6 linked regions of the Homo sapiens genome follow. The gene in region 1 interacts genetically with each later gene. Each region holds a gene or a part of one and is shown in the gene's direction. Other genes may lie near its edges.

Evidence for each region.
Region 2: changes in TRAPPC11 (region 1) and TRAPPC10 together harm fitness more than expected from each alone (negative genetic interaction), as found in Homo sapiens cells (one large-scale study listed by BioGRID).
Region 3: changes in TRAPPC11 (region 1) and SLC39A9 together harm fitness more than expected from each alone (negative genetic interaction), as found in Homo sapiens cells (one large-scale study listed by BioGRID).
Region 4: changes in TRAPPC11 (region 1) and SEC24C together harm fitness less than expected from each alone (positive genetic interaction), as found in Homo sapiens cells (one large-scale study listed by BioGRID).
Region 5: changes in TRAPPC11 (region 1) and SEC31A together harm fitness less than expected from each alone (positive genetic interaction), as found in Homo sapiens cells (one large-scale study listed by BioGRID).
Region 6: changes in TRAPPC11 (region 1) and PTAR1 are lethal when combined (synthetic lethality), as found in Homo sapiens cells (one study listed by BioGRID).

Annotation. Positions count from the first base shown.
Region 1 is NC_000004.12:183,711,293-183,714,089, forward strand, and holds the end of TRAPPC11 (trafficking protein particle complex subunit 11), read left to right. Parts: intron 1-1,307; coding exon 1,308-1,352; 3' UTR 1,353-2,297; downstream 2,298-2,797. UniProt on the Homo sapiens protein: Involved in endoplasmic reticulum to Golgi apparatus trafficking at a very early stage.
Region 2 is NC_000021.9:44,085,309-44,088,808, forward strand, and holds part of TRAPPC10 (trafficking protein particle complex subunit 10), read left to right. Parts: intron 1-1,493; coding exon 1,494-1,652; intron 1,653-2,390; coding exon 2,391-2,620; intron 2,621-3,500. UniProt on the Homo sapiens protein: Specific subunit of the TRAPP (transport protein particle) II complex, a highly conserved vesicle tethering complex that functions in late Golgi trafficking as a membrane tether.
Region 3 is NC_000014.9:69,436,692-69,440,191, forward strand, and holds part of SLC39A9 (zinc transporter ZIP9), read left to right. Parts: intron 1-3,500. UniProt on the Homo sapiens protein: Transports zinc ions across cell and organelle membranes into the cytoplasm and regulates intracellular zinc homeostasis. Participates in the zinc ions efflux out of the secretory compartments.
Region 4 is NC_000010.11:73,750,872-73,754,371, forward strand, and holds part of SEC24C (protein transport protein Sec24C), read left to right. Parts: intron 1-236; coding exon 237-372; intron 373-845; coding exon of another isoform or gene 846-852; intron 853-3,500. UniProt on the Homo sapiens protein: Component of the coat protein complex II (COPII) which promotes the formation of transport vesicles from the endoplasmic reticulum (ER).
Region 5 is NC_000004.12:82,884,654-82,888,153, reverse strand, and holds part of SEC31A (protein transport protein Sec31A), read left to right. Parts: intron 1-3,500. UniProt on the Homo sapiens protein: Component of the coat protein complex II (COPII) which promotes the formation of transport vesicles from the endoplasmic reticulum (ER).
Region 6 is NC_000009.12:69,729,012-69,732,511, reverse strand, and holds part of PTAR1 (protein prenyltransferase alpha subunit repeat-containing protein 1), read left to right. Parts: intron 1-159; coding exon 160-373; intron 374-3,500.

The DNA of each region.
Region 1 (2,797 bases):
CTTAGTTACACTGCCACATTTCAAGTGCTCAATCGCTAAATGTGACTAGCGACTGCCATACCAGACAGTGACGTCCTAGGCAAGGATGAATCCATACTTTTCTTCCTTTGAATAAAAGGCTTTGGTTTTCTAATTGTATGATGCACTCATTTTTTGCTCTTGCTTGTAAAAGCTACATTTGGCAGGGATTTCACTAGCTTGAGCCATGATTTTGTTTCTAAAATTGAGCAGCTCCCATCAGTACTAAAAAAACAGTCAAGAATCAAGGATCGGGAACCTATTTCACTCACTCCATTCCTGCCGTGAATGTCTGGAAGCTATACTTAGCTATGTTTCTGTATGTATGTACACACACACTGCTATATACATCTGAACAACCACAGCAGCAGCAAACTGAAAGCAGGAGTGCTGTCTTCACTGCCTCGGGAATGCCTCAGAATCTTTCTGCTTAAAGCATAGCAAATCACTTTTGATTGTGAACACTCTTCTGTTTCATTTCCTGATCATCTTTCTCCTGCTTTCCCCACAAAGGTCTGCTATTGTATATCTGTATAATAAAATAAAATTATTTGTAAGAATTGTATTCTTTTAGCTACTAGCTATCCCTCTGGGATGTTGTTAACCTGCCAGAAATTTTACAACTAAAAACAGTTACGATACCTTTTATTCATTCTTAGTCTTGACTTTTCTGACGTGATGTTTTAAATTCTTTCAATCAGTGATCTTAGAGATAGGGCAGTTTTTGTTTTTATCTGCCACTTTTATCCTTGCAGCATGCATTGGAGTTCACTGCAGACACTTTTTCTCAAACAGGAGATTGGGCAACCTTGAGTCCCCAAAAGGAACTTACCTGTCAGCTCAGGCTCTGGACCTGCTTAAAGCTTGAGACACAGGAGGGCCCTGAGCAAGAGAGAGAGAATAAAACTATCAGTTAAGTAGGAATGATAAACAAGGTTCCATTCCACATGTGGGAGATGGCCTGGCAGTAGCTGCTGGAACGCAGGGTTGAGAGAGAAGTACTGACAGAAGAGGATTCTTCGGGTGGAAGTGCAGAGTCAGCTGGTGATGGCTACAGGAGAGGGCAGCTCCCAGCCTGTGCCGTGGCCATCCCCAGGTGCAAGTGAAGAAAGAAAGAGGTGGGGTGAAAGGAGGAGAATCACCATATCACCATTTTTATTTTGATGCTTACACTCATTTATTCTGTTTTTGTAAAACAGTTTCAAGAATTTAAAAATCCTTCCAGTTAATAGAGCTTTTGTTATTATATTATAATTTTGTAAACCCACTTTGTTTTTCCCACTTTAAAGCCACAGGGTCGACTCATGGATGATACCTCTATTGCTGCTGCATGATGTTCAAGACCGGCCCTTGGCTGTTGTTACAGAGATGTTGGGCAGAGCTATGCAGGTGTTTCATTGTGAACTCTAGCTTTGATCATGGTAAAAAGTTAACCTTTTCTATTTTTTAATGGATGTTATACCAACTATTCAGAGGAACTCATACTTCAAAAATATTAGGAAAATCTGTCTTATAGTTTCTCTAATAAATATCTGAAATCTCAGTACGACATGAAAGAATGTCAGACCATTGTTATTGTTGAAAGTCATTTGATGAATGGTAAATTCTATGAAAAGTAAGTGATTTGCATGTATAATATCAGGAAAATTAAGCATCCCAAGTGTGACTGGACAAAGAGAGCAGATGCACCAGTGCCTGTGCCATAAAGTTCCGAATCCCCCATGTGTCTCTTTCAGAGCTGGCCAGACCGGAAATAAATCATTCTCATAAATTCAGTGTGTACTCAGAACACATACACAACAACATAGGGAGTTGTATGACTGATACGGAAAACTTCCAGAAAGTTTTAATCAAAGCAGTTTAATTAAGGTATCAAAAATATCTTTGCTTACTATCAAGAAGTGTCAAATAGGTTCAGCTTGCTGCCAAAATATGGATCATTTATGAAGCAGGTTCATATTTTAGAGGTGTTAATAAAATCCTCATCGGAAAAGATCCAAAGTGCAAGGATTTGATTATAAACATAATTTCCTAGACTGAAAGTTTTTGGAAAAGATGCAGGGTCTGAGTCAGGCCTTCTGGTTATATTGTGCAGTTTCAAAAGAACTATTTAAAACTCTTGAAAACTCATGTAAATAAAAATCATAGGGTGAAAATTGTATTTGTTAAAATACCTTAATAATTTAAAATGACCTGATTTCCTGGAAAATTTTATTATTCAAAAGGTGGAGGCATTGTAAAAAGGAAATAGTGATGTAAATAAACATGTTCTCTTTCAAGTATGCTTGTCTGTCTCTATCTTTTATTTTGAGCTTGTTTGATTTCAGCTTCATGGAACAGCTTTTACTAAGAACACTGTTGCATGAGATGCAATGGCAAGCACAGGATTGAAAATTGGGCTGTGTTCTAGAACTGGCTCTGGTAACATTATGTGAGAGTTGGACAGTGCTATCTTGGGAGGACATGAGCTCCCTGTTGTAACATGGCTTTTCAGGTAGAGGCCATGGAGCATGACTCTAGAGTCCAGCTGTCTAGGATCAAATCCCTCCTCTGCTGCTTTTGTCTGGGTGACGTTGTTCAAGTTCCTTACCCTCTGTGTATCTCAGCGTTCTTGTATATAAGATGTAAATAACACCCATCTTATAGGCTTGTTATGAAGGATGATATAGATTCATACATGAGAAGAGCTTGGAACAGTGCCAGACCCAAAGTTATGTATGAGGGTGCTCAGCCAGTGTCATCTATATTTTTATGGGAAGGCTGAAGAGGGTATTCACTT
Region 2 (3,500 bases), on another chromosome or scaffold:
TTTTACAGTGTCACATTAGGCCAAGAAGCAGCTAATGTCTACCACAGGGTTTCATAAATATGTATATAATTTCCTGCTTAGAAGTACGTTTCAAATGCTAAACACTAGATTTAGTTAGGATCTATACTCAGATCCCAGCACTTTGGGAGGCCAAGGCTTTGAGACCAGCATGGGTAAGCCAGTCGGGGCAGGATGACAAAACCCCATCTCTGCAAAATAAAAAAATGAAGTAAATTAGCTGGGTGTAGTCGTGCGCCACGGCCTCTAGTCCTAGCTACAGGCTGGAGCCCCAGCTGAGGCTCCTGCCTCAGCCTCCTGAGCCCAGGAGTTTGAGGCCTCAGGGAGCTGTGATTGCGCCACTGTTCTCCAGCGTGGGTGACAGAACAAAACTCCATCTCTTAAAAAAAAAAAAAGTTTTCCTTTGAAAGGGTTGATTAAACTTGTCCGTCTGGCATGGCATTTGAGAAATTCAAAGCTATTGTCCTTTCTGATAAGTTCTAAAATTGGAAGGAGTTGCTATAAACAAATGATTGAAGAACATGTGGCAGCTGAACAAGAGTGAGTGAATGTCTCCTTTGTTCGGGCTAGCAACGATTTATTTATTTGCCTGTTTCTTCTACGTGGAAAAAAATCACAAAGGGCATTTTTCTGTTATTCCCCCATTCCCCCTATTTTTCTGCATTTGTGCCTCTTGTGTGGCCACCAGCAAAGGCTGTCAGATGTGGGACACAGCAGTCAGTCTCTCCAGTGATTCTTCCATTGGAACATTGTGTAGAGAAGCTGAACTCGATTCCCGCAGGGGAGCCGAAGCACCAGCCAGCAGGCCCTGCCCTCCCCATGGCCCAGCGGCTGCAGTGCCAGGCTCATGGCCTGGCTCCTGCTTCCTGCCTAGTGTCCCCTGTCTCTGTCCACTCTCCCCCCGGTCCTGGTATCTTGCCTGCCTTCTGTCTTCCCTGCAGCAGGATTCTCAGAGGCCTCAGCTCACTCCTGCCTCTCATTGCTGTCTTGGAGTGAGGGGGAGCCACCTGACTGCTGACTGTTCTTAACCCAAAAGCCCGTGGCCTGAAGCTGAAAAATCCAGAGAAGGTTTTGAATATTTGAGCAGCACCAGCACAGTCAAGTTTTCTTTACAGTCTCTTCTTAAGCCTCATTATGTGATTCTCTTCTACTACTAATGGGCAGGCAAATTTTGTGACCCTCAGAGACGTAGTCATGATCATAATCCCTGACTTGCTGAACCAAGATGGGTATAAGACTCCTTGACTCACAGGATTCTTTTTTCCCCAGCAAGGTTCTCCTTCAACCCTGTAGTCCACATCATTGAGATGAAAAGTTAGGGCAGAAGGGAATGGAAGTAGAAGGAATTCATGGAGATCCCAAAGGAGCAAATCTTTCATAGTAAAAGAAATAGAGCCCCTTTCACCCCATTGCGGGCCCTGAGATGCTGTCTTCCGGTTGGCAGCGGTGCTGAGCCACGATCTCTTTTCCTTTAGATAGCCTTCTGGCAGGCATTCCTCAGAGAGTCAAGTTCACTGTCACTACCGGCCATTATACGATAAAGAATGGAGACAGCCTGCAGCTTAGCAATGCCGAAGCCATGCTCATCCTGTGCCAGGCGGAGAGCAGGGCTGTGGTCTACTCCAACACGAGAGGTGAGGTGCCGCCCACCCAGGCCCAAGGAGGATGCCCACCTTGCCCTGCACTGTGTGGGTGTGAGGGTGAGCCTGGCCTTGCTGCCATCCTGCTGAGCGCCCCTCAACAGTGTCTGGAGTCCGTGTTCCATAGGAGCCCTGCGGCCTGATGCCTGTGCTGGGGTCCCATCTGAGGTGATAAACTGAGAGTGGTTCACACGCTGAGTGGCCGAGCAGTGCTTGTCTGGCTGAGGATTAGGAGATGGGGGTCACGGCTGGGGTCACGTTCCATGGTGATGCCTGCCAGACCCTGTCCCCCTTGGGCTGGCCCTGCTCCCGAGAAGCAAAAGCAGAGCAGCCCTTGCAGGTGCTGTTGAGAGCCCTGAGCACTCCCATCCTCCCAGCCACGAGGAAGGGGAAGGGGAGGACCCTGCTCCCCTGGGGTGGGGGTGGATCTGCGGATGAGCTGGAACGGGAGAAAGTCATGCAGGGACCTACACAGGACTTGGGTGGGCCCCGTGGGAAATGCCCTTTTCCTCTCTTCAGATTGAGATCAATGATGGGTCTGGGCGCCTGCCTGCCGGCTTTCACACAGGGCTGCTCTGTCCTAGGGGCCTTGTTCTTGGGTTTGCCTGCCAGGTGCGCAGGAGCGGGAGAGGTTGAGCAGTGGCCTCACTGCTGGGCCATCACCTGCTGTAAGGAAAAGGACAAGTGAAACCGAGGGAACAGCTTTGAAGTGACTTTTTCTGTCCTTCGTAGAACAGTCTTCTGAGGCCGCGCTCCGGATTCAGTCCTCCGACAAGGTCACGAGCATCAGTCTGCCTGTTGCGCCTGCGTACCACGTGATCGAATTTGAACTGGAAGTTCTCTCTTTACCTTCAGCCCCAGCACTCGGAGGGGAGAGTGACATGCTGGGGATGGCAGAGCCCCACAGGAAGCATAAGGACAAACAGAGAACTGGCCGCTGCATGGTTACCACAGACCACAAAGTGAGTAGGGACAGTGGAGGAGCTTAGCTTGTGGGGCGTCCGCCGCCCGCCTGCCTGCTGGGAAAGGCGATGTAGCGATGCCTGCTGTTAGCCTGGCTCCTTCTGATTCCCGATGCCCTGGGCATGTGTTTAGCAGTTCTGTCTGTCTGTGAATCACCCTTTCTTAGATAAGGGGTGCATTTTTTGCAAGGGCAGAGACAAGCCAGCTCTACCTTTCCCTCTCAGTTCCAGGGGCCAGGGAGTTTGCTGTAAGAGGTTAGGGCCGGCTTAGGCATGAGGGGCGTAAAACTTGGGTCATGTCCATTAGACCGGTGACGAGGCCAGAGGAGGTCTGTGTCGTGTGTGCCTCGGTGTCTGTCCACTGAAACTCATAAGCTCAGCCACGGAGGAGCTGTCTCATTTTAGGCTTTGGTGCTGGTACTTACTGACAGTTACTTGAGAAAGATGTGATTTCGGTCCCAGAGCCACAGGATATCAGCTCATGGAATGTGTCGCTGCATCATGTTACTCAGGGTGTGCCCAAGTCTCGTAGCCCAGAAATCAATCCTGAGGGCCCTGAAACAGCCCAGGGGCCGCAGTATACGCCCAAGAGCAGCGGGGGCAAAGGGCAAGGCATGCCGTCTTTCCAAAGCACGGAGTCACCAGACAAGTCCACGCCTGAAGACGAATGTTGTAATGTTCAGCTTTTGAAGAACCTGAGGAAGTGTCTTTCCCTTAACTCACACAGACGTTCACCATTCACGAAGGTGGCGCTTAGCTCAGCAGGAGCGCGCAGCACTGGTGGCACCTGTGCTATGTGCCGTGTTATCCCGCTCTTCCCTGGCGCTGGTGGCACCTGTGCTGTGTGCCGTGTTATCCCACTCTTCCCTGGCGCTGGCGG
Region 3 (3,500 bases), on another chromosome or scaffold:
AAAGAACCCCTCTCTCAGCTCTTTCCTCTCCAGTGTTCCTTCCACATTGTTTTGCAAACAGACCCCATTTTCCTGGTCCTCTGTCAAGAAAGACAAGGTTTCTCTATAGAGCTGTGGCTGCATGCAACACTACATGTGTTGCCACCACATAGTTCCATGTGACTTGGGCTTCTATCAAAAGAAAGTAACAGCAGAAAAGGCAGAACAGCATAACCAGGTTTCCCCCATACACTTCAGACCACTGGGATCCCTTGCTAGCTCCGCCTCCCGGGTTCATGCCATTCTCCTGCCTCAGCCTCCCGAGTAGCTGGGACTACAGGTGCCTGCCACCACACCCGGCTAATTTTTTGTATTTTTAGTAGAGACGGGGTTTCACCATGTTAGCCAGGATGGTCTTGATCTTCTGACCTCATGATCCACCTGCCTCGGCCTCCCAAAGTGCTGGGATTACAAGCGTGAGCCACCGCGCCCGGCCTGGGATCCCTTTTTCTATTTGCTCTGGCCAGAAAGATGGGGTTTTAACTGCCTTTGTTGCCACCATGCAGTTCTGCAACTGGGGCTGCCTTAAAGGCAGGACCAGGAAAGAAAAAAGAGGAGGTAGAGAAAAAAAGGGGAGACTTTCCTGTACTTCACTACCTCTTAGCAACCTCTTTTCCTGGTCCTTTGGCCGGAAAGACAGGGTTTTTCTAGAAGTTTTTGCTGCCTTGCCTTCACTTGCTGTTGTTTACTTTTTGTAGTCCTGAAGTAGTTGTTTTTTGGTGTGTTTTGTCCAGTTTTTGTTGTAATCAGTGGGTGATTGACGTCAAAATGCTCTTACTGTAACATGGCCAGCATCAGATGTCTCCAACATTCCTTTTAAAATGTAAAATGTTAATACCTCTGTTAAAGAAGTTTTTTTGTTTGTTTTTTTTTTTTTGAGACGGAGTCTCACTCTGTCGCCCAGGCTGGAGTGCAGTGGCACCATCTCAGCTCATTGCACCCTCCACCTCCCGGGTTCAAGCAGTTCTCTGCCTCAGCCTCCCAAGTAACTGGGATTATAGGTGCCTGCCATCATGCCCAGCTAATTTTTGTATTTTTAATAGAGATGGGTTTCACCATCTTGGCCAGGCTGGTCTTGAACTCCTGACCTCGTGATCCACCTGCCTCAACCTCCCAAAGTGCTGGGAAGAGTAACTCAAAAAAATCTGTGAAGTAACTTAACCATGATATTACCTTTCAGCTAAGCTGTCTCCAGATTTTTTACATCTTTCTTCATACTGATGAGTTTAGACATATCATTGTAATTTTGTTTTTGCTGCTTTACTCTCTCTTTTCTTACCCTCTTCCCTTACCCTTTTTTTTTTTTTTGAGACAGAGTTTTGCTCTTGTCACCCAGGCTGGAGTGCAGTGACACCATCTCGGCTCACTGCAACCACCGCCTCCTGGGTTGAAGTGATTCTCCTGCCTCAGCCTCCCTAGTAGTTGGGATTACAGGCACCTGCCACTAGGCATAGCTAATTTTTGTATTTTAGCAGAGACGGGGTTTCACCATGTTGGCCAGGCTGGTCTTGAACAACTGACCTTAGGTGATCCACCTGCCTTGGCCGCCCAAAGTGCTGGGATTACAGGCATGAGCCACCGCGCCTGACCCCCCTCTTTCTTTATTGTAGACCAAAACAACTTTTCTTCGTACTTCAAGAAAGACGTTTGTATACATGTTACTACAGCCTATGGTTTCGTTCTTCTGTGGACCTTATAATTATAATACATTGTTTTCAGAACTCAGTATATCATGTTAACTAAGTGCTCTGATGCTTTAATAAGCATTATTAAATACTAATTAATGTAAAAAGGAACCTCTTACTCTTCTGTAATTATAGCTCTAAAATCACTGGAATTAGATGATTATCAGCTTTCACGTAAAAAAAAACTGTCTATAGAAACAAGTTTTAAGAACTTCAAAGATTGTTGGGTAATGCAGCACTTTACTGTGCAGCCAAAATTTGAAAACATCTCAAAATTCTTTGGACTGTTAGAATTGGTATGTTTAGGAAGGTAGACTATTGGGTCAAAGATGAAAATATAAATGTGATGTATTGTCAAAACTGCTATTGTCAGCCATGGCTCAATGTAGATTATCCCACTCATTTTTATCAGTTCTGTAAGAATGCCATGTATCAGATTCTTTATAGAGGTATGATTAACTGTGGCTTTTTCTGTCACTTTACTCTACATTAAATAAAATATAGGGGGCCCTAGCCAGAACAGTCAGGCAGACAAAAAAGATAGAAGGCATTCACATTGGAAAGGAAGAAGTAAAGTTGTCTCTGTTTTCAGGTGAGATGATCTTATGCATAGAAATACCTAAGGATTCCACACACAAAAAAATTAGAACTAATAAACAAATGCAGTTAAGTTGCAGGATACAAAATCAGCATACAAATATCAGTTGCATTTTTATACACTAACAATGAACTATTTGAAAAAGAAACTATGAAAACAATTTCATTCATAATAGCATCAGAGGGGGAGGGAAAGCATTAGGAGATATACCTAATGTAAATGAGGAGTTAATGGGTGCAGCACACCAACATGGCACATGTATACATATGTAACAAACCTACACGTTGCGCACATGTACCCTAGAACTTAAAGTATAATTTTTAAAAAAATAATAATAGCATCAGAAAATAAAATAAAATAAAATACTTGGGCATAAATTTAACCAAGGAGGTAAAAGATCTATATGCTGAAAACTATAAAACATTGATTTAAAAAATTGGAGAAAATATAAGTAAGGTATTCTGTGTTCATGAATTGGAAGAATTAATATTGTTAAAATATCCGTAGTACCCAAAGTGATCTACAGATTTAATGCAACCCCTATCATAATTCCAGTGGCATTTGCTATGGTTTGGATATTTGTCCCCTCCACATCTAGTGTTGAAACTTGATCCCAGTGTTGGAGGCGGGGCCTGGTGGGAGGTGTTTGGGTCATGAGGGTGGATCCGTCATGCACATATTGGTGCTATCCCCTTGCTGATGAGTGAGTTCTCCCTCTATAATTTAACAAGAGAACTGGTTGTTTAAAAGAGCATGGCACCCCTCCCCTCTCTCGTCTTGTGAAATACTGACTCCTCTTCCCCTTCTGCAATGATTGGAAGCTTCCTGAGATCCTCAGATTCGTGCTTCTTGGACAGCCTGCAGAACTGTAAGCCAAATAAACCTTAATAGAACGATCCTAAAATTCATATGTAACCACAAAAGGCCCTGAAGCCGGGGTAATTTATAAAGGTCAATTAAAGAGGTTTAGTTGACTCACAGTTCAGCATGGCTGGGGAGGCCTCAGGAAACTTACAATCGTGGCGGAAAGCAAAGGGGAAGCAAGGCACCTTCTTCACAAGGCCGCGGGAAGGAGAAGTGCTAAATGAAGAGGGGAAGGGCCCCTTAAAAACCATCAGATCTTGCAAGAACTCACCATGTAGTACACCTGTAAACCCAGCTACTCGGGAGGCTGAAGC
Region 4 (3,500 bases), on another chromosome or scaffold:
GCTACAGCTTCACCCCTAGTATGCTTGTCTAGGGGAGTGTAGGCCCCTTGTTGGGAATCTGTGTTTAGAATACTGCTGTAGCTACAGTTGTATGCTGGTAGTGTCCTTTTCACTGCCTAAACTGTGGTATTGGGCCAGTGAAGGTCTGAGTTTATTGATCCTTGCTTTGCATTCCTGGCTCAGGGTGGAGGAGAAAGTTATTTCCCAATCACTTAGTTTCTGTCCTTTACCCTCAGGTATGTCAAGAGCCCCACCTTCCTCGGGGGCACCTCCAGCCTCAACAGCACAGGCTCCTTGTGGCCAGGCTGCATATGGCCAGTTTGGCCAAGGAGATGTACAGAATGGGCCAAGCTCCACTGTTCAGATGCAAAGGTAGGTACTTGGTCAATCTAAAATTGGTCTGATGAGGCTGAGTGCAGTGGCTCATGCCTGTAATCCCAGCACTTTGGGAGGCTGAGGTGGGTGGATCACCTGAGGTCAGGAGTTTGAGACCAGCCTGGCCAACATGGCAAAACCCCATCTCTTTTCTCAAATAAAAAATTAGCCAGGTGTGGTGGTGTGCACTTGAAATCCCAGACTTGGGAGGCTGAGGCAGAAGAATCATGAGGCAGAGGTTGCCGTGAGCCGAGATCGTGCCATTGCACTCCAGCCTGGGCGATAGAGTGAGACTCCGTCTCATAAATAAATAAATAAATAAATAAATAAAATTGATCTGATGAAAGTAGAAAGGTTAGGAATGTATGGGGGTTTGTGTTTTGTTTTGTTTTTTTTCTCTCCTTTGCCTTTCTTGTAGATCACTTTTTCTCTTCCCTCTACCCTTTTGTACTTTGTCTTCTTTTTTCCAGGTTACAGGTACTGCTGACGTCCAGCCCTGTGGATTATTGACCCATCTTAGTACCTGGGTTCCTTTGCATATTCTTCATTTTCTGTGAACTTGAGTTTCTTGCTTTACTAGACATACATCTTCAATAATGGTTGCAGTCCTGTTGAGACTACCCTAAGGGAGAAATGGGAAGAGGAAACTTCAGGATTATTTGCATCTCTTTTGACTTGCCCCTTTCCTCTAGAACAGGCACTTAGTAGGACTGATTGGTTAAGTTTGGGCATGGCCAGTTATGAACTGAAAGATACTAAAAGGGAAACCACATAAATGGTGAAAACTTCAGTGGTACAGTGACCCAATAAACCCATCTTAGCATGAAAGTCCATTAAAGGAGGGCAGTCATCTCTATTAGAGTGCTTTTTAAAATTTTTTAATTTTTTTTTTTGAGACAGGGTCTCACTCCGTGGCCCAAGCTAGAGTGCAGTGGCAGGATCACAACTCCCTGGAGCCTGGATGTCTCAGGCTCAGGTGACCCTCCCACCTCAGTTTCCCAGGTAGCTGGGACTACAGGCATGCGCCACCACACCCAGCTAATTTTTTGTATTTTTAGTAGAGATGGGGTTTCGCTGTGTTGCCCAGGCTGATCTCAAAACTCCTGAGCTCAAGCAATCTGCCCACCTTGGCCTCCCAAAGTGCTAGGATTACAGGAGTGAGCCACTGCACCTGGTCAGGAGTGTTGTTTGTGTTTGGTAAATAAAGAGTAAAATATAACTGTGGGAAAGGGGTATGATAATAGAAAAGTCACTTTCTGACACTTTAACTGGGTGTCCAGAACACACATTTTAAGCATTGAATGTAAGCCTGGGTAAGTCAAACAAGTGGGGTACATAGAAGATAACAAGTACACAAATGTACATAAAGTTATAAAACAGGGTGAGGATATAGTGAGGGGGTAGGGAGCTGTTTTAAATACATTGGTCCGTGCTGGGTGCAGTGGCTGACTCCTTTAATACCAGCACTTGGGGAGGCTGAGGTGGGAGGATTGCTTGAGCTCACAAGTTGAAGGCTGCAGTGAGCCATGATTGTACTGCTGCACTCCAGTCTAGGTGACAAAGCAAGACCCTGTCACAAAAAAACAAAACAAAACAAAAAACCCATACGAAACAAGCATATGCCTTAGTAAATTATTATATAGCAAACTCCTTTGTAACTACAACTACGACCCAGATGAAGAAATAGAACTTTGCCACTCACCCCAAAAGCCTTTTCCATGTGCCCCAATTCAAACATTATTCTCTCCCTCCCCTCATAAATAACAACTATCCTGCATTATCCTGACTCTTACAGTAATTACTTTCTTTTTCTTTTTTTTTGAGACAGAGTCCTGCCCTGTTGCCCATGCTAGAATGCAGTGGTGTGATCTCGGTTCACTACACTCTCCAGCTCCTGGGTTCAGGCGATTCTCCAGCCTCAGCCTCCCGAGTAGCTGGGATTGCAGGCGCCTGCCATCAGGCATGGCTAATTTTTTTATATTTTTAGTAGAGACAGGGTTTCGCCATGTTGGACAGGCTGGTCTCGAACTCCTGACCTCAAGTGATCCACCCGCCTCAGCCTTCCAAAGTGCTGGGATTACAGGTGTGAGCCACCACGCCCAGCTGACTTTCTTGTGGTTTTTTAAAAATAGTTTACACTTGGCTGGGTGAGGTGGCTCATGCCTATAATCCCAGCACTTTGGGAGGCCAAGGTGAGAAGATTGCTTCAGCCCAGATTTTTGAGACCAGCCTGTGCAATATAGGGAGACCCCAATCTCTACAAAAAATAAAATGTTAGCTGGGCATGGTGGCAAGCTTGTTGTCCTAGCTACTTTGGGAGGCTGAAGTGGAGGTATCGTTTGGGCCCAAAAGGTCGAGGCTACACTGAGTGTGATCTCGCCACTGCACTCCAGAGCTTGAGAAACAGCGAGACTGTGTCTCACAAAGAAAAAGTTTACACTCAAATGTACAACCCCACGTACCACAATTTAGTTTTACCCACAGGAAAAACACTTGGTGTGTCTTAAGTCTATAAGCTCCACCTCTGTCTTCTTTTTCTTAGTATTTATCTGTTGAAGAAAACAGTTAACCCAAAGAATTTCCCACAGTTTGGACTCTTTACATAACATTTACATCACACTTGTCCAACTTGTGGCCCACAGTCTGCGTGCCCCAGGACGGCTTTGAATGTGGTCCAACACAAATTCATAAACTTCCTTAAAACATTATGAGGTTTTTTTTTTTAAGTTCATTACCTGTCATTAGTGTAGTGTTAGTGTATTTTATGTGTGGCCCAAGACACTTCTTCCAGTATAGCCCAGGGAAGCCAAAAGATTGGACACCCCTGATTTACATTGTATTAGGTATTATAAGTAATCTAGAGATGATTTAAAGTACATGGGAGGAGGCTGGGTGTGGTGGCTTATACCTGTAATTCCAGCACTTTGGGAGGCCAAGGTGGGTGGATCACCTGAGGTAAGGAGTTTGAGACCAGCCTGGCTAACATGGTGAAACCCCATCTCTACTAAAAATACAAAAATTAGCTGGGTGTGGTGGCGGGCACCTATAATCTCAGCTACTTGGGAGGCTGAGGCAGGAGAATCGCTTGAACCCAGGAGGCAGAGGTTGCAGTGAGCCAAGATTGT
Region 5 (3,500 bases), about 100 Mb from region 1:
ATCTGCCCACCTCGGCCTCCCAAAGTGCTGGGATTACAGGCATGAGCCACTGCGCCTGGCTAATAGATGTTTTTTTTGTTGTTGTTTGTTTGTTTGTTTGTTTGTTTTGAGACAGAGTCTTGCTCTGTCACCCAGGCTGGAGTGCAGTCGCATGATCTCAGCTTACTGCAAGCTCTGCCTCCCGGGTTCACGCCATTCTCCTGCCTCAGCCTCCCGAGTAGCTGGGACTACAGGCGCCCGCCACTGCGCCCGGCTAATTTTTTGTATTTTTAGTAGAGACGGGGTTTCACCGTGGTCTCGATCTCCTGACCTCGTGATCCGCCCGCCTCGACCTCCCAAAGTGCTGGGATTACAGGCGTGAGCCACCGCGCCCGGCCTAATAGATGTATTTTTGAAGTTTCGTGGTGGTAGACGTTTTAAGTAGTGATGTTTGTAATAACTGTCATTTATGAGCATTTGTTTATATATGCCAGGCACTGTTCTAACCACTCTGAGTAATACCACTTATTTCTCACAACAACCCTGTAGTATAGATACTGTTCTCCTTATTTTAATGAGAGAGGAGCCAGGACATACATGGATAAAGCGACATGATTAAAGTCAGAGGTGGACATAGTGAAGCTGGAATTTAAACTGAGGGTGTCTGCCCTAGACCCCATGCTCTTAATTGCCGTGCTATAGATACTGTCTTGGAGATGGCATGTATGAACAAGCCCACACAATTTTCTTTTCCTTTCTTTTTTCTTTTCTTTTCTTTTCTTTTCTCAATGTTTTCTTAGAACATTGAGTACTAAGGCTAAGAAATAAACTTTAGTAAATGCTTTGAATTCACATTTAACTATTTTATGTTCTTATAAATGTGTCTCTTTCTTTTTCAGTCAATGTTACACATTAACCAAGCATTAATGAATTAGGTAGTCCTTGTACTTAGGTCTTAGAAATACTATAATTGTATTCCATTTTTTTAATAATACAGCTATTTTGATTTCACTTTTAGAAATTATTCTGAAGGCATCTTATAACCTTTTCCCCCTTAACCATACTTTCTCCTTTTTTAAAAAGTAAATGATCCTTTAAAGAGTTAAGAATTTAAAAGTAAATGTTTTATCTGAAACTGGTCACTCTAGCTCATTAGTCTACTTGTTTTCCCCTAAATATAAACATTTAAAATAAATCAAAACTTTCTGTATATCTCCTTCTGTGCTAAGCAATTTTGAGTCTAAAAAGGGGTAAAAGTTTTGAAAAAAGACGTTATTTGTCTAGTTGGTGAGATAAGATAGCACATAAGGCAACTGGTTAAAAAAAGGTAATTGGAAAATATGTAAACAATATGTGCTAGTAGAATGTTACAAAATGTTTATTAAAATATAATGACGTTATTATAAAATGCTTAAATCATAGTATTGACAAGTACAAACTTGTCGGGGAGTATTTAGATCAATGTGGATTGAATCATCAGGGCAGTTTTCATGGAGGAGCTGGAACTTGAATTTATTATTAAAGATCAGGTGAGACAGTTGGCAAAGAGGAAGAAGAGGAGATTCATGTAAGAAAATAAATGCCTTTTTTATATCTTAGAAAGTTGGAATTTTTCCCCCCAAATAACCCTGAAGTTTTCTTGTTTAATCTCATGATAGTGGTAATCTTTAAAAATAGCAAACCTATCAAAAGCACTAACCCATGTGCTGAGCACTTTTTTTGGCTCCCTATTATAAAACGTATGATCTCATTGGAACCTCACAGCATCCCATGAGGTTGTCACTCTTTTCCCTATTTTACGAATGTAGAAACTGGGGCTCAGGGAGGTTAAATAATGTGTCCAAAGTATCATAGCTAATAAGTAACAGAGCCAGTAGTTAAATTGAGGATTAACTCCAGAGACCATGCTTTTAACCATGTGATACATCCTGCCTCCTAATCTCACTTTGCTCTAACCTAACACAATTTCTAAAATGCATTTCTTCAGTTTCATCATGCATGCTGGTTGCTTTGTTATTGTTTCTTCTAAATGTTAATATTTCCTCTATGATATAAAAATTGAATACCTGAACTTGTTGGAAGTAGAAAGAACTCTGGAGCTAAACTTGCAAGTTCCAATCTTGGCTCTGCCCCTTGCCCCCTTGCTAGCATGTACAGATTGTCTAACTTTCTGTGTCTTAATTTTTTCCTCTATAAAATCTCCTTCAAATATAAACAATTTGCAGGTACAAGACTCGGAGCATATGTTTAAGGCAATCTTAAGGAAAATGTTAGAGGATAAACTCTGGAGCTGAGTAAGGAAACTGGCAAAAATACTCTTGGAGAGCATTGAGTATGCATTTTAACTGCAGGACTGAGACTGGAACAAAAGTGAGAATGAGGAAGAAAGAATAAAATGTAAATGTTAAATGTCCAATAATGTAAGGGATTGATTATACAACTAATAAAAAGAGAAGAGGAAAGAAATTGGAGGTAGAATAAGTTTGTGAATTGCCACATCTGTAATGGCTATGAGTCAAAGGACATCATTTAAAGCTGACAGATCAGTTAGTAGAAGTATAAGGAGTTCAAAGGTAAACACTGAGAAAGATAATACTATTGACTATAACCATGTTGTGTGGATGGGCAGTAAGATTATACAAGCTAATTTCATAAGTGCTCATAGTAGGGAGTTAATAGTTTCTGTGTAAAGAAATAGAGGATTAATGGTATTAAGTAAAATATTTAAAATTACAGTTAAAAAGATAGAATCAGAAACACATATTATAATGAAAATATACATCATCCTAATTATCAGAAAAATGGTAATTGCACAAAAAAGAAAACAGACAATGAAAGACTTTTTAAAAATTATTACCCAAAGATATTAAACCAAAGTAAAATATGGTAAAACTAAGACCAACCATGTCTGTCATGTCAATACATTTTAAATGTCCTTAGCTAACCTACTGTGAAAAGATTTTCAAATTGGATCACCAGTAAAATCTGTTGGTTTTTTGTTTGTTATTTTGTTTGTAATGATGACAAAGTAGTTCTGAAGGGCAAAAGTATACATGTAAAGGCAAACAAGAGGTGGAATTCAGACCAAAAGTCATTATTTGAGACAAAGAAGGATATTCATAAAGCTAAAGTGTATATTTGACAGTGAATTTGAACATTATGGATATGCACCAAATAACTATTAAATAACAAAGTAATTTTCATAAAGCAAAAGTTTCAGGAGATACCATGAGAAATTGACATAAATATATTAGCAGTAAGAGACTTAATTCACTGTTTCGGTCCAAGGCAGATCAAGTGGACAAAAAAGTAAGGATATAGGAGATCTAAACAAATCAATAAAGAGGACTTAGTTAATATATATTGAGCTCTAGGCCCTGAAAACAGAGAGCACCCCTTCTTTCTAGGTCCCAAGAACAATTCACAAAAATTCACTATATAGGCTCTATTGAAAGGAAAGGAGGAATTATAGGCATAGGGGATTTTAGGACAAGGGAACTACTCTGTGTGATACTATAATG
Region 6 (3,500 bases), on another chromosome or scaffold:
AAACAACCCCTCCCCATCTCCAAAATACTAGACTTATAAACAGGTATTATTTTGCATTGTCTCTGAATGGAAATTAAATTAGGAACAATGAAAACTGGTTATTTTTCTCTCTGGTTTATGTTCTTTCTGTGTTCTCTTTCCCACATGCTGCCTTAACAGGCGATGGGTGCTACAACAGCTAATTCAGGAAACCTCCTTGCCTTCCTTTGTGACCAAAGGAAACTTGGGAACAATTCCCACAGAAAGGGCACAGCGACTCATACAAGAAGAGATGGAGGTCTGTGGTGAAGCAGCAGGGAGATACCCAAGCAACTATAATGCTTGGTCCCATCGCATCTGGGTTTTACAGCACTTGGCCAAGCTAGATGTCAAGGTAGGAATATTACTGTCTCCTGGGCAGACTGCCTGTCTGCCCTTAAAATCTTCTGGTAGTAGTTCATTCTCAGAAGAGCTTTGAAGGAGTAGAGAAACTGATGGTCTGGCAACTTGAGAGAATCGCAACAGCTGCTACCTCTGGAGGAACCCTGTAATTAAATAAAAAGCTTGCATTCCCCACTAGTGCTGTTTTTGGCAGTCTTAAGGCTAGTGCATTGGTAAAGCAAGGCAGGTTTAACCAACTGAGGAAGATTGAGCATAACTCACTTTATCCTGAAACAGGAAGGGATTATTAAGCCTTATAGAACTGGAATTGCTATTTCTTGGTAGTGTTTGGTTATGTGACAATATACTAAGTCAGCTGGCTGTCTTTTCACACTCTCGTCCTCTGAAAAGGGGGAGAGGAGGGCAGGGATAGACAATCTCACCCAGGTGTTTTTAAAATTGGCTGAGCCTATAAATTACCTGGGGATTCCTAAGTTCCACTCCAAGCCTACTAAAGCAGAATGAGGGTGGATCTAGAGATCAGTATTTTCCACTGACTCAGGGTTATTTGAATGCAGAGCCAGTTTGGAAACTCTCACAGCCTAATCCTTTCAGTTTAGAAATGAGGAGATGGAGATTTCCAGAGAATTTTAATGGCTTAGACTTAGCTACAGTTGTACCACTTATTATTCATCAGAATGAGAGCCACATGTCCCTTTTGCTCCTTATATACTACGGTGTCTCAGTTTTTTCTTTTCTGATGGCGTCACAGTGCCATAAGAATCTAGGGTGCTCATCTAAAAAGCTTCTCAGGCTTGAGACAGTTAAAAGAGGTCAAGTTGAAGATTGAAGTGCCCCAGGTGATGCTTTCAGATAAGTGGGGAAGTGTTATGTAATTTTAACTTACCACCCTCTTCTTCCTACATCCCTCTTCCCATGCTCCCATTTCTCTCTTTGTTTCCTGGCCAGGGCAAATGGGAGACTTTTTACTTCCAGAGGATTTTAAGCCAATAATTCTGGAAGAGAAGCCTTCCCCATTCAGTTTACATGGCTTTGAGTTTCAGGAGGGGTGGCCGCCTAATGGAATAGAAAGAACCAAGGCTCAGAATCACATCAACCTAGGTTCAGATTTTGGCCCCACTACCTATATGTGGAAAGCAAGGTTTTATTGTTTTCATTTATAAAATAGGGACTCTACTGTCTGCCTCAGTGGATTATTGTGAGAGTTAATTGAGTTAATGGATGTAAATTACTGGGCATCTAATAGAGAGAGATTCACTCGATTTTAGTTCCTTTCTCTGTTCTCCAGAGATAGAAAATTGGCTACCAGTTTGCTTGATCAACTCCGTGCAATTTATTGATGAAAAAGTATAAAACCCTATCATACCCACCGACTGTCCTGTATACGCAGTAAAACAAAGTGTTTGCTCTCAACAAATTGAAAATCTAGTTGAGAAAGTAGACCAACAATTACAAAGCATCAGAATACAATGGGAGCACAGAAAAATCGTTCTTCATCTAGGATGCGCTCGTTGGAAATAGCTGCCGGGGGAAGGAAGATACATTGAGTTGGGAGGCATGATTACAAGTTGTTTGGTGGGTTGTCAGGGATATGGAGTGCTTGGTGGTCATCTCAGATCCATGACTTGATAGTGTGTGGGAAGAGGAAAGAGATATGGGGAGGATTGGGGATAAAAAGGAAGGCGGAGTCCAGGTTGACTGAGAGATCTTTGGAAATTTTTCTGCCATGATGTGGACCTTTACAAGTGGCATTTCCATAAAATCAGGAACAAGGGGCCAAAGTGAAATTTTTGGTTACTTGAGACCATCTGGTGGTAAAGATAACTCATTAATGGTGAGTTATAACTCATTAATGGTGAGCTCAGCTGCCAGGGTCCACTCCTGGGTTCAGATGTCATCATCCTTCCTTGACCCGCCCTTGGAGGAAGACTTACCATTCTTCCATTCACCACTTGCCACTGCAACATCTCTTGCTCTTGTTGTCAGTGAGGAGTCCTAAATTTGCAAAATCCCCTTTCTGTTGTTATAAGCCATTGGGCCCACCTAGAACATTTACTACTATGCTTTGTCTGTTACAGGAGGTAATCACAAAAATACCAGTAGTCTAAATCAGCTTAAAAATATATATGAAATGAGCCAGCATTTTTTAACTTAGGAAATTGAAAATGACTTTTTAAAGTGCTGGCATCGAGTATTAGTAAGAGTATGAAAATGAGCATTATTCAAATTGTTATAAGCTTACTGAAGGGCAACATGGCAGCACTTATCACACTTTTAAAAATAGGGTGTTATTTTTAAGAGTTCTGCTTCCAGGAATTCATCATAAAGAAATAATGGAAGATGAAGTATGGTAGAATGATTAGAAGCTTCACTCAGTGGTCATGCAGACCTGCTTTGCATTCTGGCTTTACCACCAATTTGCTGTGTAGCCTTGAGGAAGTTGCTTAGCCTCTTCAACCTTCAGTTTTCTCATCCGGAAAAGGAGGGTGACAATAATTCCCATCTCACTGAGTGATGCAAATTGAAAGGGAGGATTCATATAAAGTGGCTATCAAAGTGCCTTAATTAAGTGCTCAATAAACACTGGCTATTAAATATAGAAGTTTGATATATAAAAGTAGCATTTATAGTAGTGAAAAACTAGAAAAGCTGTAGCCCTTCAATAATGAGGGAATTGTTAGATTACAATCCATCACATTGGAATATTTTGTTATGACTAAAATGTATATTTTGGAAGATGATTTAAAGGAAAATATTCACAATAGGTTATATTAGGGTAGGCCTAATATTATTATTTATTTATTTATTTTTGAGACAGGGTTTTGCTCTGTCGCCCAGGCTGGAGTGCAGTGGCACAATCTCAGCTCACTGCAACCTCCGCTTCCCAGGTTCAAGCGATTCTCCTGCCTCAGCCTCCCAAGTAGCTGGGATTACAGGCACCCACTACCACGCCCAGCTAATTTTTATATTTTTAGTAGAGACGGGGTTTCGCCATGTTGGTCAGGCTGGTCTTGAACTCCTGACCTCAAGCAATCCACCTGCCTCTGCCTCCCAAAGTGCTGGGATTACAGGCATGAGCCACCACACCCAGCAGCCTAATATAATTTTTAATGTATTTA